Homo sapiens: one gene and its partners. The protein of the gene in region 3 purifies or fractionates together with the protein of the main gene of each other region. This does not show direct contact. Each region holds a gene or a part of one and is shown on either strand. Other genes may lie near its edges.

Region 1 (5,356 bases), on a different chromosome or scaffold from region 3:
AATGGGAGGTCCCCTGAGAGCCTCAGGTCCCAAGATTCTGCTCAAGCCAGCTGCTCCTGCCCAGGGAGTGTGGCTGGGGGGCAAGAAGGGCAGGAGTCAGGCCTCAGGCTGGTCCCACCCATCACCCTGCCTCTGGCCCACCTGGCGCCCCTCAGAGGGCTGAGTCTCACTCTGCCACTCTCACTAGAGGAGGGAGCACTCTGCTACCCTCCCTGCTTTGCTCCAAATCAGGAACACAGTATGATTATTATACAGTATGATTATTATAATAACAGCAACTATTTTTCAGAGCTTACTCTGTGCCAGGAGCTCTATAGGCAGCCCTCTGTATCCTTGGTTTCTGTGTCCATGGATTCAACCAACCTTGGATTGAAAATAATTTTTTAGGCCGGGCGTGGTGGCTCACGCCTGTAATCTCAGCACTTTGGGAGGTTGAGGCGGGCGGATCACGAGGTCAGGAGATCGAGACCATCCTGGCTAACACGGCGAAACCCCATCTCTACTAAAAATACAAAAAAAAAAAAAAAAATTAGCCGGGCGTGGTGGCGGGCGCCTATGGTCCCAGCTACTTGGGAGGCTGAGGCAGGAGAATGGCGTGAACCCGGGAGGCAGAGCTTGCAGTGAGCCGAGATCGTGCCACTGCACTCCAGCCTGGGTGACAGAGCAAGACTCCATCTCAAAAAAAAAAAAAAAAAAAAAAATATATATATATATATATATATATTTTTTTTTTTAAATTGCATCTGTGGGCCGGGTGCAGTGGCTCATGCCTGTAAGCCCAGCATTTTAGGAGGCAGAGATTGGAGGATCACTTAAGGCCAGGAGTTGGAGACCAGCCTGAGCAACATAGCGACACCCCATCTCCATTAAAAACAATGTTTTAAAAAAATTGCATCTGGGCAGGGCGCAGTGGCTCACGCCTATAAGCCCAGCACTTTGGGAGGCCCACATGGGAGGATTGCTTGAGGCCAGGAGTTGGAGACCAGCCTGAGCAACATGGTGAAACCCCGTCTCTGCTGTAAATACACAAATTAGCTGGGCGTGGTGGTGGGTGCCTGTAATCCCAGCTACTCAGGAGGCTGAGGCAGGAGAATCACTTGAACCTGGGGGGCAGAGATTGCAGTGAGCTAAGATCGTGCCACTGCACTCCAGCCTGGGTGACAGAGTAAGACTCCATCTCAAAAAAAAAAAAAATTGCACCTGTACTAAACATATACAGACTTTTTTGGTGATTACCTCCTAAACAATACAGTATAACAACCATTCACACAGCATTTCCGTCGTATTAGGTATTATAAGTAATCTAGAGATTTAAAGTATGTGGGAGGCTGTGCTTAGGTTATATGCAAATACTATGCCATTTTATATCAAGGACTTGAACATCCATGGATTTTGGTATCTGCAGAGGGTCCTGGAATCAATTTCCCATGGAGACTGAGAGATGACCGTACTACCCACTTCGCAAGCAATGTCTTCTTTAATGTACTGAACCATCCCATTGTTCAGAGGAGAAACTGAAGCTCAGGGCTTTGAATAACTAGACCAAGGAGGCACAGCATGGGAGTGGGACATGAAGCACTCTACAATTAACCCTTTCAGGACAAGGCCCTGTCTCCCACACCCATCTGCCCAAAGGCTCTCCAGGGCCCCCTCCTCTTGGGTGTACCTTGACAAGAGACCTAGATTTTAGCTCACTATGCTGTCTGCAGTCCTGGATGGTCCCACTCCAGTGTCTGGTGCTCTGAGATGGAGTCAGCATTAGTGGCGGATGTGGAGACTGGGGGGACCTGTCTTCACTGGGGTAGACAGAGGAGATGTGGACTTTGCCCCCCATGAGCCCGGCACAAACCCAGAGCCGCCAGCAGGGCCTCGAGGCATCAGTCCCGGGCTCATGGGCTCCCTGAGGTGTTTCTCCTACTGTTTTCCGTTCCCCTCCTCCCTTCCATGCTGAGGTTGGTGGGGTGGGGGTGGGGGTGCCCACGCACGGAACAGCCACCACTTCTAACTATCGCCTGAGCCCTGATCTGCTGTCAGCTTCCACGTAGTCTCAGGGTCACAAAAGTCCAAGAGGCCTCTTGGGAATGTGTCACCTTCCAGCGTGGAGTCACACTGAGGAAGGAGGAGGGGAGGGCAGCCAGGGGGGTGGCGATAGGGAGAGAGTTTAAATGTCTGGCTGGCTCTGAGCTTCAGTCAGTTCCCACTGCAGCGCAGGTGAGCTCTCCTGAGGACCTCTCTGTCAGCTCCCCTGATTGTAGGGAGGATCCAGTGTGGCAAGAAACTCCTCCAGCCCAGCAAGCAGCTCAGGATGTTCCTGAAGGCCGTGGTCCTGACCCTGGCCCTGGTGGCTGTCGCCGGTGAGTAGAAGCTGTCTTTGGATGGCACTCCTGGGCTGCTGCTCTGAGTAGTGCAGGATGGAGGCTGAGCCAAAGCAAAAGGACACTTCTGAGTGCCCATCAGCCCCCAGCTGGACATGAGGTCTGCCTGGCTGCCAAGTGGCTCACAGGAGAGCTGGCCCAGTCCCAGTGGTGGGCCCATTGGCATTGGTGCTATACCAGTTTCACATATCCCTGTGGCTTCCAAAAAGCTAAGCTCAGACAGGGAAAATGGCAGGTTGAGGCACCCCCACCATCATCCAGTCTGCAGCTCAGAGCTGGAGCAGAGGGGCCACACAGGAGACGGGGCCTCATGAATTGCTCTCTGTTACCACCCAGGAGCCAGGGCTGAGGTCAGTGCTGACCAGGTGGCCACGGTGATGTGGGACTACTTCAGCCAGCTGAGCAACAATGCCAAGGAGGCCGTGGAACATCTCCAGAAATCTGAACTCACCCAGCAACTCAAGTAAGAGGGACTACAGTGTGCGGTGGTGACGGGGAATTCTTAAAGGCCATGCAATGTACTGGCAAGGGTTGAGCTTAGAGACAGGAGCCCTGAGCTTAGGATACCCACTGCCCTGCCACTAACTGGCCGGGCCTCTGAACCTAGGATCCACATATGTAAACCGGAAGTTTGGACCGAATAATCCCTGCCATGTCCTTTTGCTTTGACGTTCTAGAGTTTGACAAATGGCCACATCCTATCATTCAGGCTCATGGAAGAGAGGGAGGGAGGAAAATGTCACGTGAGCTGATTTCTAATACGTTTCAGAAAGACAGGCCCCAGTGGAATCAAGGGGAGGGAGGTGGGAATATTTGGGAGGCCCCTGGGCACAGGCAAGGAAAGCAGCACCTTGTGCCACTGGAAGACCCCAGCAGAGGTCAAGAAGACAACATTGTGTTACACAATGTGATCCTATGGCCCAGAACACTCCCTCTGGGAAGGACCTCAAAGTCCCACCCTCTGCAGACAAGGAGGGGAAAGCAAACTGCTGGAGGTGACATGGTGGGTAGATTCTGAGACAAACTATGTGGGAGATCCTGAGATAGAAATTCAGCATCGTAACTTAGTCTGTGACACCCATCCTCTCCAATCTGCACCACCATAGGGAGGGTGAACTCGGTACCTCTGAGCACTCACCTGTCCTAGCACGTGTGCATAAGGCGAGTGGTATACAAGCAGACAAAGTCTTGCCGTGTAAATGCCAAATGTAACGTGGCCTCCTTGTGCCCTTCCCCACAGTGCCCTCTTCCAGGACAAACTTGGAGAAGTGAACACTTACGCAGGTGACCTGCAGAAGAAGCTGGTGCCCTTTGCCACCGAGCTGCATGAACGCCTGGCCAAGGACTCGGAGAAACTGAAGGAGGAGATTGGGAAGGAGCTGGAGGAGCTGAGGGCCCGGCTGCTGCCCCATGCCAATGAGGTGAGCCAGAAGATCGGGGACAACCTGCGAGAGCTTCAGCAGCGCCTGGAGCCCTACGCGGACCAGCTGCGCACCCAGGTCAGCACGCAGGCCGAGCAGCTGCGGCGCCAGCTGACCCCCTACGCACAGCGCATGGAGAGAGTGCTGCGGGAGAACGCCGACAGCCTGCAGGCCTCGCTGAGGCCCCACGCCGACGAGCTCAAGGCCAAGATCGACCAGAACGTGGAGGAGCTCAAGGGACGCCTTACGCCCTACGCTGACGAATTCAAAGTCAAGATTGACCAGACCGTGGAGGAGCTGCGCCGCAGCCTGGCTCCCTATGCTCAGGACACGCAGGAGAAGCTCAACCACCAGCTTGAGGGCCTGACCTTCCAGATGAAGAAGAACGCCGAGGAGCTCAAGGCCAGGATCTCGGCCAGTGCCGAGGAGCTGCGGCAGAGGCTGGCGCCCTTGGCCGAGGACGTGCGTGGCAACCTGAGGGGCAACACCGAGGGGCTGCAGAAGTCACTGGCAGAGCTGGGTGGGCACCTGGACCAGCAGGTGGAGGAGTTCCGACGCCGGGTGGAGCCCTACGGGGAAAACTTCAACAAAGCCCTGGTGCAGCAGATGGAACAGCTCAGGCAGAAACTGGGCCCCCATGCGGGGGACGTGGAAGGCCACTTGAGCTTCCTGGAGAAGGACCTGAGGGACAAGGTCAACTCCTTCTTCAGCACCTTCAAGGAGAAAGAGAGCCAGGACAAGACTCTCTCCCTCCCTGAGCTGGAGCAACAGCAGGAACAGCAGCAGGAGCAGCAGCAGGAGCAGGTGCAGATGCTGGCCCCTTTGGAGAGCTGAGCTGCCCCTGGTGCACTGGCCCCACCCTCGTGGACACCTGCCCTGCCCTGCCACCTGTCTGTCTGTCTGTCCCAAAGAAGTTCTGGTATGAACTTGAGGACACATGTCCAGTGGGAGGTGAGACCACCTCTCAATATTCAATAAAGCTGCTGAGAATCTAGCCTCAACTGGTTGCCGGATGAATCCTCCTTGCAGCTGGGGAGGTGGGGAGGTAACCATGACTGGGCAGAGCTTAGCAGCGGCCTGGCAGGAGACACCCAGGATTGGGGAGATGAGACTGCAGGAGAGGTAAGGGCCTGGTGGACTGGAGGCGAGTACATGGGGAGTCCTCTAAGGGGAGGCAGAAAAAGATGTCACACATTATCCCAAGACAAAATATGCAACCTACTTATATTCATTTAGCCAACAAATATGCATTGAATGCCTCCGATGCGCCAGTCATTATTCTAGGCACCGGACAACCAGCAAACAGCTTTTGTGCAGCCATGTGCCCGACTCTGCCTCACACTGAGGGGGACACCTGGAGGCGAGCAGAACAGGGTCCCTGGCCCTGGGGGGCTCACAGTACACTGGGGGAGATGGTTCCTCCTTGCACGAGATCTTCAGTGCCTTTAACTTATTCATGTAGTGTCATTTAACCCACCCCACCCCAGTTCCATTATGAAAGCGATTCATGCTTATTTCAGAACTTTCTTGACTGCTAAACCTGTGGTCTCCATCCAGAAT
Region 2 (5,095 bases), on a different chromosome or scaffold from region 3:
CCTGCTCATTTTGTCGCCTTGAATGGGAGCAAACTGAACATTAACCTTAAGATGGGAGTGGAGGTGAGGGTCTCAGGTTGGGGATGCTGGGATCCCCCTGTGACAGCTCCCAGAATGTCTCTCTTCCTTCTCCAGGTCTGGCTGCTTTCTCTCTCTGACGCGGGTCACCCCTCCTCCCAAGCCTCACAAACCTGCTAGGTGTCCCTGGGTCTGCTTATTCTTTTTTTGTTGTTATTGAGATGGAGTCTTGCTCTGTCTCCCAGGCTGGAGTGCAGTGGCACGACCTCAGCTCACTGCAACTTCTGCCTCCTGGGTTCAAGCGATTCTCCTACTTCAGCCTCCCGAGTAGCTGAGATTACAGGTGCCCACCACCACACCAGCTAATTTTTGTATTTTTAGTAGAGACGGGATTTCGCCATGTTGGCCAGGATGGTCTTGAACTCCTGACCTCAAGTGATCTGCCTGCCTCAACCTCCCAAAGTGCTGAGATTACAGGCGTGAGCCACTGCACCCACCCGGGTCTGCTTATTCTACCCTTCTCTCTGGTTCCACCCCTGCTGCAGTGGACAAGCTGTGCCGAGGTTGTCTCCCAAGAAAAAACCATGTTCCCCAACTTGACAGATGTCAGGGAGGTGGTGACAGACCAGTTCCTATGCAGTGGGACCCAGGAGGATGAGAGTCCCTGCAAGGGTGAGTCCCTCACCATGCCTGGATTCCCAAGGGGAAGGCCACCTGTGTCTCTGTGGCCAGCATGCATGCCAGAACACCAGTCCACTGCCCTAGATGACACTGTCTCCTGTCACCCTTTGCTGGCAGGAGAATCTGGGGGAGCAGTTTTCCTTGAGCGGAGATTCAGGTTTTTTCAGGTGAGAAGGTAGAAGCTTGCAGGACCCAGGGGTTACAGGATCTCAGCCTTGTTGGGGGGATGAGGGAGGCCTTTGAGGGATCTAGGGAGGTTGGGGCTTACAGTTGGGGCTGTGGCAGCCTCCCAGCCAGTTCTCTCCTTTTCTCCAGGTGGGTCTGGTGAGCTGGGGTCTTTACAACCCCTGCCTTGGCTCTGCTGACAAAAACTCCCGCAAAAGGGCCCCTCGTAGCAAGGTCCCGCCGCCACGAGACTTTCACATCAATCTCTTCCGCATGCAGCCCTGGCTGAGGCAGCACCTGGGGGATGTCCTGAATTTTTTACCCCTCTAGCCATGGCCACTGAGCCCTCTGCTGCCCTGCCAGAATCTGCCGCCCCTCCATCTTCTACCTCTGAATGGCCACCCTTAGACCCTGTGATCCATCCTCTCTCCTAGCTGAGTAAATCCGGGTCTCTAGGATGCCAGAGGCAGCGCACACAAGCTGGGAAATCCTCAGGGCTCCTACCAGCAGGACTGCCTCGCTGCCCCACCTCCCGCTCCTTGGCCTGTCCCCAGATTCCTTCCCTGGTTGACTTGACTCATGCTTGTTTCACTTTCACATGGAATTTCCCAGTTATGAAATTAATAAAAATCAATGGTTTCCACATCTCTCAGTGCCTCTATCTGGAGGCCAGGTAGGGCTGGCCTTGGGGGAGGGGGAGGCCAGAATGACTCCAAGAGCTACAGGAAGGCAGGTCAGAGACCCCACTGGACAAACAGTGGCTGGACTCTGCACCATAACACACAATCAACAGGGGAGTGAGCTGGATCCTTATTTCTGGTCCCTAAGTGGGTGGTTTGGGCTTACTGGGGAGGAGCTAAGGCCGGAGAGGAGGTACTGAAGGGGAGAGTCCTGGACCTTTGGCAGCAAAGGGTGGGACTTCTGCAGTTTCTGTTTCCTTGACTGGCAGCTCAGCGGGGCCCTCCCGCTTGGATGTTCCGGGAAAGTGATGTGGGTAGGACAGGCGGGGCGAGCCGCAGGTGCCAGAACACAGATTGTATAAAAGGCTGGGGGCTGGTGGGGAGCAGGGGAAGGGAATGTGACCAGGTCTAGGTCTGGAGTTTCAGCTTGGACACTGAGCCAAGCAGACAAGCAAAGCAAGCCAGGACACACCATCCTGCCCCAGGCCCAGCTTCTCTCCTGCCTTCCAACGCCATGGGGAGCAATCTCAGCCCCCAACTCTGCCTGATGCCCTTTATCTTGGGCCTCTTGTCTGGAGGTAAGCGAGGGTAACCTTCCCTTCCTGCTGTCTCCAGCATCCCTCCTTGGCCTTTTGGGGCCAGGCTTCATCAGCCTTTCTCTTCAGGTGTGACCACCACTCCATGGTCTTTGGCCCGGCCCCAGGGATCCTGCTCTCTGGAGGGGGTAGAGATCAAAGGCGGCTCCTTCCGACTTCTCCAAGAGGGCCAGGCACTGGAGTACGTGTGTCCTTCTGGCTTCTACCCGTACCCTGTGCAGACACGTACCTGCAGATCTACGGGGTCCTGGAGCACCCTGAAGACTCAAGACCAAAAGACTGTCAGGAAGGCAGAGTGCAGAGGTTTGAGGGCAATGAGTGTGGGCAGTGGCCTAAGGCAGAAACAGGGCAGGCGGCAGCAAGGTCAGGACTAGGATGAGACTAGGCAGGGTGACAAGGTGGGCTGACCGGGAGTAGGAGCAGTTTTAGGGTGGCAGGCGGAAAGGGGGCAAGAAAAAGCGGAGTTAACCCTTACTAAGCATTTACCCTGGGCTTCCAGGCAGCCCTGGAAGTCAAGAGAACACTCAGAAATGGGGAGGGAGAAGCAGTGGAAATCCATATGGGTTGAGGAGTAGGTAAGATGCTGCTTCTGCGGGACTGGGAATGCGCTGTTTCTCAGTGACATGGTCTCCGAGACCAGGAGGGATACACCTAAGGCAGCCTTTCCCTCTTGATGACTTCTACTTGTCCCCCCTTCTCAAAGCAATCCACTGTCCAAGACCACACGACTTCGAGAACGGGGAATACTGGCCCCGGTCTCCCTACTACAATGTGAGTGATGAGATCTCTTTCCACTGCTATGACGGTTACACTCTCCGGGGCTCTGCCAATCGCACCTGCCAAGTGAATGGCCGATGGAGTGGGCAGACAGCGATCTGTGACAACGGAGGTGAGAAGCATCCCCTCCCCCTACATTGCTGTCTCCCTGACGGCGCCCAGCCCGAGGAGTGGGCACTCGGCTCCGGACACTGTAACTCTTGCTCTCTACCTTGCTCACGGGGCCTCAGGCTTCAGTGCTTACCTCGATGTCTCATACCTCTGCAGCGGGGTACTGCTCCAACCCGGGCATCCCCATTGGCACAAGGAAGGTGGGCAGCCAGTACCGCCTTGAAGACAGCGTCACCTACCACTGCAGCCGGGGGCTTACCCTGCGTGGCTCCCAGCGGCGAACGTGTCAGGAAGGTGGCTCTTGGAGCGGGACGGAGCCTTCCTGCCAAGGTGACCTTTGACCTGTACCCCCAGGTCAGATCCTGGTCTTCCATCCTACTGTCTTCTCTCCCCACCTCAACCCTGCTCTTTCCTCACTTTGTTTAAACCTCCCTGTACAACTATCTCACTTCTGAGCCTTTTATACCCTGGAAACCCATGATCCCCCGTCTCTTTGGTCACTGTATCCCTGACACTCCCAGACATTTGACCTCATTTCTGACTCTCCCAGACTCCTTCATGTACGACACCCCTCAAGAGGTGGCCGAAGCTTTCCTGTCTTCCCTGACAGAGACCATAGAAGGAGTCGATGCTGAGGATGGGCACGGCCCAGGTTTGAAGACAGAGAAGGGAGGCAGGGCAGGGAACTGGGGGAAAATGGAGAAGGGACAGAACTGTTAATGCTGGAGCCTGAGCCACTCTCCTGGCACCCAGGGGAACAACAGAAGCGGAAGATCGTCCTGGACCCTTCAGGCTCCATGAACATCTACCTGGTGCTAGATGGATCAGACAGCATTGGGGCCAGCAACTTCACAGGAGCCAAAAAGTGTCTAGTCAACTTAATTGAGAAGGTGGAATCCTCCTATCCCTGAACTCGGGGGAATGGAATCTCGCTGATCTTCCAGGACTAGCTCCCTGATCATTCCAGCCCCTCTGAACAACAGGGCCCCAGGAAAATCTCCAGGTCCTATTCTGTCCTCCTTCCCTTTTACTTGAAGCAGTTTCTTGACTGGTAATTCCTCCATGAACCTCAGCCCTTGAGCCTCTTACTGAGAGCCTCCCTGTCCCAGCAAAGTCGCTGAAATCTCCCAATCACAGTATTCTATTTTCAATGCCATGGCGCCTTGTTCTCCTCACCCACAGGTGGCAAGTTATGGTGTGAAGCCAAGATATGGTCTAGTGACATATGCCACATACCCCAAAATTTGGGTCAAAGTGTCTGAAGCAGACAGCAGTAATGCAGACTGGGTCACGAAGCAGCTCAATGAAATCAATTATGAAGGTCAGAGGTTAGGGAATGGTGGGAGGTTCACTTTGGGGTCAGGAGGTTCAGGGTGGAGGGGGTCATGAGACTACCTTGAGGGCGACAGGGAGGACCACTTTGTAGTCAAAAGTTGAACAGCAGGATCGTTGGGCAATGGAGGTTAGTGGGAACCTGTTGGGGGCTGGAAGGGCCACTTTGTGGTCAAAGGGAAGTCCGTGTAATGATGATTAACTTAAAAAGTTGAAAGATGTGGGATTTCAGTTGCAGATTGGTCTCTGGGGTTAAAAGATGGCTTGGAAGACCAGGTGAGGTGATGGTCTCTTCCCTCTCCACAGACCACAAGTTGAAGTCAGGGACTAACACCAAGAAGGCCCTCCAGGCAGTGTACAGCATGATGAGCTGGCCAGATGACGTCCCTCCTGAAGGCTGGAACCGCACCCGCCATGTCATCATCCTCATGACTGATGGTCAGAAGGGACCTCTCTCCTGTCCCAGCCTCCCCACCTTCTCAGACCAGCATGTGGCCCTTAAGTCCACTTGTAACACTATACCCATGGTTGGGGCCCTGAATGTGACTCATAGCTGGCTGTTCATCTCTCCTGTGACCCTTCATAAGGAATTCTTCCTAAGCCCTGTGATCAACTATCTCTAACCCTTCCTCAACTTGCTCACCCTGCCATGTGTATCCCTGCCTTTAGCCAGTTTATCTTCCTTATCTCCTACCCTCATGGTCCTGTCTCTTCTGCAGGATTGCACAACATGGG
Region 3 (4,583 bases):
AGAAAAGCCAAGCGTGGTGGCACATGCCTCTAATCTCAGCTATTTGGAGGCTGAGGCAGGAGGATCACTGGAGCTGAGGAGTTCAAGGCTGCTGTGAGCTGTGGTCATGCTACTGCACTCCAGCCTGGGTGACAGATTGAGACCCTGTCTCAAAATATATATACATATATATATAAGCTATCTACTATAAACATAATTTTTAGAGTTTAATTATGTAGCCTATGATAAGTTTAAACTCTTTCAGTTATAAGTGTTAGATGCACATCTCAAGATAGCTTAAGAAAAAAATTAAAAATGAATATATTGGTTTTCATAATTAGAAAGTCCAGGGGTTATATGCCCTCAGACATGACTGATTCCAGTTGCTCAAGCAGTAATTGGTCTCTCTCTATCTCCGTTTCTTGCTTTTGCTTTCATTTGTGTTAGCTTTGCTTTTAGGGACACCCTTTCCACAGAGATGAACTCTTGGCAGCTTGTACATGATCCGTTCAGCAAAGGATTTCAAGAGGCTTCTCTCCCAGTGTCCATATTGTTATGCTTAACAGGTTAGACTGGTCATATATTTAGTCTGTGGTCAGAGAGGCAGAGCCAATGATTGACAGTCCCATCAGAGTAACCCAGAGCCCCATCAGAATTACAAGAAGTATAGTAACAGACTTTTCCTTTTTTTCCCCTTTAATGTACATGCTGCTTTTCACACAGGGTATAATTATAAATAATTTAATTTTCTGACATGGATTTCATTTACTTTTTGATAATGCATCTTTATTTTGATTTGCCATATAATAAGACGGAATAAAGGATTTTCACCATTTTGTTATTTGCAGATTAGTGGAATTGAAGGTTCAGACGGAAGCAGAACAATTTTTACAATAGTTATATAGTATGTATAGTAAATTATATAAATGATTAGAGTAATTAGAGTCAAAAGGGACTAGAGAGCCAGGTGTGGTGGCTCACACCTGTAATCCCAGCACTTAGGGAGGCTGAGGCAGGAGGTTTGCTTGAGATCAGAAGTTCAAGACCAGCCTGGGCAAAATACAGTGAGACCCTGTCTCTACAAAAAATAAAATAAACAATAGGCCGGGCACAGTGGCTCACGCTTGTAATCCCAGCACTTTGGGAGGCCAAGGCTGGTGGATCACCGAACGCCAGGAGTTTGAGACCATCCTGGCCAACATGGTGAAACCCTGCCTCTACTAAAAATACAAAAAATTAGCCAGGTGTGGTGCCGGGCGCCTGTAATCCCAGCTACTTAGGAGGCTGAGGCAGGAGAATCACTTGAACCTGGGAGGCGGAGGTTGCTGTGAGCCGAGATCGCACTATCGCACTCCAGCCTGGGCAACAAGAACGAAACTCCGTCTCAAAAAAAAAAAAAAAAAAAATATATATATATATATATATATACGCGTATATATGTATATATATATATACGCGTATATATATATACGCGTATATATATATATATATATACACACGTATATATATATATATATACACACACACACACACACATATATATATATGGGCGTGGTGGTGCATGCCTGTAGTGCCAGAGGATTGCTGGAGTGTGGGAGGCCGCAGTGAGCCATCATCATGCTACTGCACTCCAGCCTTGGCTATGAGCAAGATCCTGTCTCAAAAAAACAACAAAAAAGGGACCGGGTACATGGTTCATGCCTGTAATCCCAGCACTTCGGGAGGCCGAGGCGGGCAGATCACTTGAGCTCAGGATTTTGAGACCAGCCTGGCCAAATGCAAAACCCCATCTCTACAAAAACTACAAAAAAATTAGCCGAGCGTGATGGTGCTCCTGTAGTTCCAGCTACTCAGGAGGTCAAGGTGGGAGGATCACTTGGGCCCAGGAGGCAGAGGTTGCAGTGAGCTGAGATCGTGTCACTGCACTCCAGTCTGGGCGACAGAGTGAGACCCTGTCTCAAACAAACAAACAAACAAAAAAGAGACTAGAGAAAGACTAAAGAAAATAATCCTCAGGAAATATAAAGAACAATTAAAGTCCCCTTCTAATTTTTTCATTACTTGAATTTTCTTTGAATAACTGCATTCATATAATTCTTCAACACATTACTGATTTAGTGTATACTTCCCTTGCCTGAATGTTATTTTTAATCTCTGAAAAAGTCAATGATGATATAGCAAAACTTTAGAAACAATCTCAGTATCTACTAGTAGGGAAATGGTTAAATTAAAATAAATTATTGTATAGCTACTCAATGGAGTATTTTGACATCTTTTAAAAAATTATGATAGAATCAGATCGGTGGATTGTATCAATGTCAGTATCATGGTTGTGATATTGTACTATAGATTTGCAAGAAGGTTACCACTGGGAAATCTGGGTAAAGGGTACATGGACCCTATTATTTCTTACAATTGATTGTGAATCTGTAGTTATCTCAAAATAAAAAATTAATAAATCATAATCATAAGCACAGTAAATCAACAGGAAAATATTTATTTTTATGTGAAAATATCAAGTTAAAATCTGTAGCACATCATATTATTAGTATATTAAATCATGCATAGGAAAAAAGAGTAGAGAAAGTACACCAGATGGTCATAGCATTTATATCTAAGTTGTTGGATTTACATGATTTTTTTCTTCTCTATACTTTTCCTTATTTTATAAATGTCCTTTAATGAATATATACAATACCTTCTCTAGTCATCAAAAAGTAAAACTTATATTTAAAAAATACATTTAAAAATCTTGCTTTCTCAGCATGCCAGTGTGAAGGAAAAGATAACCGAATTCCATTACTGAAGGAAGTTTTTGAGGCCTTTCCTAACACTCCCATTAACATCGATATCAAAGTCAACAACAATGTGCTGATTAAGAAGGTACTCAAGGCATTGCCTCCTCTGGGTGTGTTGCATCCTATTTCACAAACTAAATAAGGTTAGAGTCAGTGACTGCATAGATTGATAATGCTCAAGGAAATGTGATACCCTAGGGATCAGCATTGTTTTAAATAATGCCTTAGTAGAAGAGATCATTTTACTGTAGGAGAGAGCCTATTTTCAGAGAGAGTTGGCATGTCATGGATAAAATAAGGTTGTATGAACCAATCATTCTGGCATTTATGTAATTATCTTCTAGTTTAACTTGTTTCATTCATGGTTAGTTTATGTCAAATTACTAAATAACTCTATTCTGTTAAATAAATTATATAATGATATAATGTGAATAAATTTTGCATTTTATAAAATATTCTAAATTTACATATTGATTCTTCCAAAAGTTATGCTATTCATTCACAGATAGTCAATTCTAATTCATTTTTTAAGTGAAATGTTGTTAGTGGATTTGCAAATAGGCACATGCATAAAATTTTGAATTTTCACACGTAGGTTTCAGAGTTGGTGAAGCGGTATAATCGAGAACACTTAACAGTGTGGGGTAATGCCAATTATGAAATTGTAGAAAAGTGCTACAAAGAGGTAAGCTTCAAAAATGATACAGAATTATCTATCTTTGTTGTTGTTTTGTATCTACAAATGATAAGTTATTATAGTAATAATTTTTTTTCTTTTTCTTATTTTTAGAGATAGGGTCTCACCCTGTCACCCAGGCTGGAGTGCAGTGGTGCAATCATAGCTCACTGCAGCCTCAAACTCCTGGGCTCAAGTGATCCTCCTGCCTCAGCCTCTCAAGTAGCTGGGACTACAGGCACACACCACTGCACCCAGCTAATTTTTAAATCTTTAGTAGAGATGAGGTCTCACTATATTGCCCACTCTGGTATCAAACTCTTGGACTCAAGCAATCCTCCTGCCTTGGCCTCCCAAAGTGGTGGGATTACAGGTGTGAGCCATTGTGCCTGGCCCTTATTACAGTAATAATTTTTAAAGCATCTTATTTCAGGCCGGGCGCAGTGGCTCACGCCTGTAATCCCAGCACTTTGGGAGGCCAAGGCAGGTGGATCATAAGGTCAGGAGTTCGAGACCAACCTGGCCAATATGGTGAAACCCTGTCTCTATGAAAATATAAAAATTAGTTGGGCATGGTGGCACGTGCCTGTAGTCCCAGCTACTCAGGAGGCTGAGGCAGAAGAATCACTTGAACCCGGGAAGCAGAGGTTGCAGTGAGCTGAGATCATGCCACTGCACTCCAGTCTGGGCAACAGAGCAAGACTCTGTCTCAAAAAAAACAAACAAACACTTATCTTATTTCATAGCCTTCATACACAGGTAGATGGTACTGGGTGGAAGCAACTAGCCAGAAGTTTAATATAGTAGAGATAATGGATTTGAACCTAGCAATATAAGGTCAATGCAGTTGAACTGGTTCAAGGAATTATTATTTTCACATGCTAATGTTAGTTGCTTACCAATATTTCATTATGTGTATTAAAGGAAAAAATACAGTTTCTATCTTTTAATCACTGTCTTGTGTTAGGTAATTAAATTTTTTGTGTGTAATTTTGAGTTAAATTATTTAGCTGGGCATGATGACTCATGCCTGTAATCCTAGCACTTTGGGAGGCCAAAGTGGGAGGATTGCTTGAGCCCAGGTGTTTGAGACCAGCCTGGACAACATAGTGAGACCCCCTTTCTATTAT
Region 4 (4,583 bases), on a different chromosome or scaffold from region 3:
AGCTGCCTCTTTTAGGGTGGATTTTGAATGGGTATTATGAATAAATAAAATATTGTAACCTTAGGGGTCTGAGAAGACATTGGTAGAAAGCATTGGTTTAAGAGCTGAGCTGATGAATTAGCTGAAGTCTACCTCTTCTGGGCTATCTTAGGCTGATTGCTATTATTATTATTTTTTTGAGACAGGGTTTTGCTCTGGCGCCCATGCTGGAGTACAGTGGCACAATCTTGGCTCAGTGCAATCTCTGCCTCTGGGGCTCAAGTGATCCTCCCAGTCAGCCTCCTGAGTTGCTAGGACTACAGGTGCATGCCACCCCACCCAGCTAATTTTTTGTATATTTTGTAGAGACAGGGTTTCACCACGTTGCCTAGGCTCGTCTCGATCTCCTGGCCTCACGCAATCCACCCACCTCAGCCTCCCAAAGTGCTGGGATTACAGGCGTGAGCTACCGTGCCTGGCCTAGGCTGACTATTTTTAATGCTCCCTGCAATCTGGATTCTAATACCTCAGAGGCCCTATTTGGGTTATATTTCCAACTTTTCTTCCTGTAGAAGTTATTCCTTAGCTCCTTTCAGGCTTCCTCTACCTTCATCCCCAGCTCCCAATAGCACTAGTGAATCCTTGAGCAAAACATTTTGTTCATATCTTAATGTATATTTTGGTGACAACACATATATGATCACCCCAAACAGGGAACAGGTAGAAATAATAATTTCATTGTCAAGACTAGCACAGTGCTGGCACGTGGAAAGCATTCAAGACACTTTTTGAAATGAGTAAACATTCAAATTAGAGGGAGGTGCTTTTATGCCATCTATTAAAGCTAAATAAATAAAATGTATTATTTATTTCTCTATAACAAGGTAAAACTCTAAAGAGGCAGGCGTTTTCCATTACCATGATTATGTAATATATATTAAATATGTATTGTATATCCATGTATCTATAGACATGTCTACATCTCTCTTGATGAATAGAGGACTGCATGCTATACCGAATAACTTATATTGGTATGAACAGGTCATCTGGAGAAAATTAGAATAGCAAGACAAAATAAAGTAAGGTAATAATTTTTGGAGTATATATATTTAAAACTAAATGCTAATTATGTTAGAATTGGCTTTTATAGTAAAAGTATCTAACAGTTAAAGGGGGCTTACTAAGTGATTCAACATGTATGATTTCACTTAATCTTCACAACCACCCCAAGAGTCAGGTGTTAGTATTGCAATCATTTTACAGATAAGGAAATGAAGCACAGAGGTTTTAGTTAATTCCTTAAAATAGGGTTGAGCCAGTATTTTTAACCACTTTATCTGATTCAGATTCTGGAATTCACACTTTTCAAAAAAGTTATTATAAACACACACACACACACAACATAAAATTACCATCTTCATTATTCTTTAGTGTACAGTTTGGTAGTATTAAGTATATCTGTTGTGCAACAGATCTCCAGAACTTTTCATCTTGTAAAACTAAACCTGAATACCAATAAGAGGAATTCCCCATTTCTCTCTTTCCCTAGCCCTTGGCAACCACCATCCTGTTTTCTGTTTCTATGACTTTGACTACTTTAGAAACCCCATGTACGTGAATCATACAGTATTGGTCTTTTTGTGACTAGCTTATTTCACTTACCATAACGTCCTCAAGGATCATTCATGCTGTAGCATGTGACAGGATTTTCTTCCCTTCTCAGGCTGCATAATATTCTGTTGTATTTATATACCACATTTTGTTTACCTGTTCATCCCTTGATGGACATTTGGGTAGCCTCGATCTCTCAGCTATTGTGAATAGTGCGGCTATGAACACGGGTGTGCAAATAGCTCTTTGAGACCCCGTTTTCGATTCTTTTGAATATATGTCCAGAAGTAGGATTACTGGATCATTTGGTAATTCTATTTTTTAATTTTTTCAGGAACTACTATACTGTTTTTCATAGTGGCTCCGCCATTTTACGTTCCCAGCAACACTGCTAAAGTCTAACCCGCACTTTTAATCACAATATACTGCCTTCTTTTCATAAACTTTAAAAAAGTTAACCTTCAATCGGTTTCTAATTGCTAGTTTTTTTCTCTCCATAGAACTAGACACAGTTTGGAAATTTTCTCACCCTTAGGTTGCAACCTTGTTTCCAAGGCTACTTCATGTCATTGGTAATTTCTTTCCAAACTTACCCTAACAGTAAGAGAGGTACCCATAACATTGGTGGTGTTGATAGAGAACTGTACAAGGCCATGCTCATCCGTGGTAGCATTGGAGTAATAGTTTGCTTCATTTCCTCTGATGAATATGACTTTATTTGGTATAGGGACGCCTTTCCCATCTACTAGGCGCACCTGAAGATTAAAAGCTGTGGATTAGTTATATTGGTAATAACTAATAGGCACCAAACATATTCATTTATCACATTTTTTAGTGCCTCCTCTATGTTGAACATGGTTCCAGGCACTGAGGACACAGCAGTGAAAAAAAACGAAGTTTCTTCCATCACAGAGCTTACTGTCTAGTGAAAGAGATAGATGCTAAATAAATATATACATAACATACACTAATTTAGTAGTAATCAATCCTAAGAAGAAAAACAGAGCAGTGTGAAGGGATAGAGAGTGATAGGGATAATAACAAGAGTGACCTGAAAAATGTCTTCTAGATATTTTGGAAGTGCTGTGTATTATTATATATAACTCTTAGAGAGTCACAGAGCACTAGAGTAATATGATAATGAAATATTTTAATCTATTAATCTATTAACTAAATTTATTTGTGCCCCAAACACCTATTTTGGAGTGGACCATTAACTTCCTATAGATTAGTGTCTGAAGTCTCATAAGTGCACAAGTAAACAATTGCCAATACATTGTCCTGTGTGTTTCTCCAGTTGCCTTAGACATGGTCTCTGCTTCTCAACCTAGATCTTCAGCCTTTTGGAAGGTAGGCAGATTTTATGACACACTTCCCATGTGAAAAATATAAAATTGAAAAGAGGCACACAGTATTAAATAAGTTGCCAAATCTAATTTACTGCTAATATTGTATTGGCAGTTGAGTAGTCCAGTTCAGATTGTAAAGGTGGCAATTCTTTTTCAGTATAAGCTACAGTTGGTAGCAGGAAGAACAATAGGCTGACCCCCATCAGTACTCATAATTGATTTACAAAATCTAAGTTTGCCAGTGAAATGTTGGCTGCATGTACAAAGACAAGAATAGGCACATAATTCTGATTTTCTTCTAGCTAGAGAGTCTTATGACAAATAGGATATTTAACAGCAATAAAATGTACTTACAAAGTACACTATCTTTCTGAGAAATTTACAAATGAGCTACACTTTCATTTTAGGAAGTTGAATACATTTTGGTGTCATGACATAACCAAGCCTTCTAGAATGTACTCCACTTTGTTGAGTCTATGCCTCTTTTACACCCTTCATAGCTGAAATCCTGTAACATTTACATTAAGAAAATGATACACAGTAAATACACATTGAGGCACATGTAACTGTGATCTCAGACTTCTAGAGTCATAAAGATCCATTTGCACATCTGCTGACAACAGAAAAATTGTAAGAGAAGATTTTTTTGGTAGATAACATGAAAATTCATAATTCAAAAATCTGAGAACCTTAAATAGCAGTGTTTTACCCCATGTTCACTGTTTTAGAAATATACTTGTTATAGAAAAATAGTGTAAATATACTATCCATGAAATAAACATTATTGTAGAATCTTTAATACTTCAAAATAAAAATTAAAACCACCTACCCACCTGTTTCCATACAAAGTTAGTGTTAGCATCGTAATGAAACTGGTCAGCATGAATTTTGAGATTCTTGTGAGAAAATGTCATAAAAACCTGAGACTGCCTGGTAAACCATGAGAAGGAGATTGAGTGACTTGTACAATGCTGTTTCAAAAGAAGGGGGGAAAACTCTACTAATTTTAATAAGGCCTTAGGATAATTACATACATTTCATACACAAATTTACAGAAGAATAAATCTATTTTTATGTAGTTTTATACCTTTGGTTATACTAATCAAGCCTTGGTGATATTTTATACTTTTGGTTATATTAAATGATAACATTAACCAGGCATGGTTTTAGCACAAACCATAACTATTGTGCTAATTAGGTAACAGTACATGGGTTGATGAGTGAACTGGAAAATACTCCACCTGCCCAAAGAAGGGAATTCCCTGTCGAAAGTGTGAGTCCACTTTCACAAATGAGAGTTTGGTTATGGTTCTTGTGATTTCACTGGACTGCCTTCCAGTCAATTCCACCACTGAAAAAAGAGAAAAAAATCTGTTATTTTTGGGAAGAATGATGTCTCTAAAATTCTATCACCTCCCCCCAACTTACAATTCATTATTTGGCTAAGAAAATCAATGCCTGTTGTGTTTTCTCTTATACCCATGTAGTACACAAACCTGTTCCTTCTTCTTGGATCTGGGCCTCAGTGTGAAGTTTCATTTCATACTCCTTCCTCTTCAGCTGGAAGACCTTGGTTTTTACTTGCTGATAGAAGCAGCCATGGCTGTTTAGCTAAGAAGGGAGAAAATAAAATACAAAAATATA

Evidence for each region.
Region 1: the proteins of GDPD1 (region 3) and APOA4 purify together in Homo sapiens (affinity purification with mass spectrometry; 3 studies listed by BioGRID and IntAct, with this or other methods). This does not show direct contact.
Region 2: the proteins of GDPD1 (region 3) and CFB purify together in Homo sapiens (affinity purification with mass spectrometry; 3 studies listed by BioGRID and IntAct, with this or other methods). This does not show direct contact.
Region 4: the proteins of GDPD1 (region 3) and A2M purify together in Homo sapiens (affinity purification with mass spectrometry; 3 studies listed by BioGRID and IntAct, with this or other methods). This does not show direct contact.

Annotation. Positions count from the first base shown.
Region 1 is NC_000011.10:116,820,141-116,825,496, reverse strand, and holds APOA4 (apolipoprotein A-IV precursor), read left to right. Parts: upstream 1-2,192; 5' UTR 2,193-2,305; coding exon 2,306-2,354; intron 2,355-2,711; coding exon 2,712-2,838; intron 2,839-3,615; coding exon 3,616-4,630; 3' UTR 4,631-4,797; downstream 4,798-5,356. UniProt on the Homo sapiens protein: May have a role in chylomicrons and VLDL secretion and catabolism. Required for efficient activation of lipoprotein lipase by ApoC-II; potent activator of LCAT. Apoa-IV is a major component of HDL and chylomicrons.
Region 2 is NC_000006.12:31,944,164-31,949,258, forward strand, and holds the start of CFB (complement factor B preproprotein), read left to right. Parts: upstream 1-1,931; 5' UTR 1,932-2,058; coding exon 2,059-2,122; intron 2,123-2,209; coding exon 2,210-2,443; intron 2,444-2,843; coding exon 2,844-3,029; intron 3,030-3,184; coding exon 3,185-3,358; intron 3,359-3,578; coding exon 3,579-3,680; intron 3,681-3,781; coding exon 3,782-3,918; intron 3,919-4,210; coding exon 4,211-4,349; intron 4,350-4,666; coding exon 4,667-4,798; intron 4,799-5,079; coding exon 5,080-5,095. Other genes in the region: complement C2 isoform 1 preproprotein, read left to right, coding at 1-63, 564-690, 817-866, 1,015-1,194.
Region 3 is NC_000017.11:59,254,379-59,258,961, forward strand, and holds part of GDPD1 (lysophospholipase D GDPD1), read left to right. Parts: intron 1-228; exon of another isoform or gene 229-457; coding exon of another isoform or gene 458-545; intron 546-2,743; coding exon 2,744-2,862; intron 2,863-3,372; coding exon 3,373-3,462; intron 3,463-4,583. UniProt on the Homo sapiens protein: Hydrolyzes lysoglycerophospholipids to produce lysophosphatidic acid (LPA) and the corresponding amines. Shows a preference for 1-O-alkyl-sn-glycero-3-phosphocholine (lyso-PAF), lysophosphatidylethanolamine (lyso-PE) and lysophosphatidylcholine (lyso-PC).
Region 4 is NC_000012.12:9,102,056-9,106,638, forward strand, and holds part of A2M (alpha-2-macroglobulin isoform a precursor), read right to left. Parts: intron 4,551-4,583; coding exon 4,436-4,550; intron 4,291-4,435; coding exon 4,181-4,290; intron 2,346-4,180; coding exon 2,184-2,345; intron 1-2,183. UniProt on the Homo sapiens protein: Is able to inhibit all four classes of proteinases by a unique 'trapping' mechanism. This protein has a peptide stretch, called the 'bait region' which contains specific cleavage sites for different proteinases.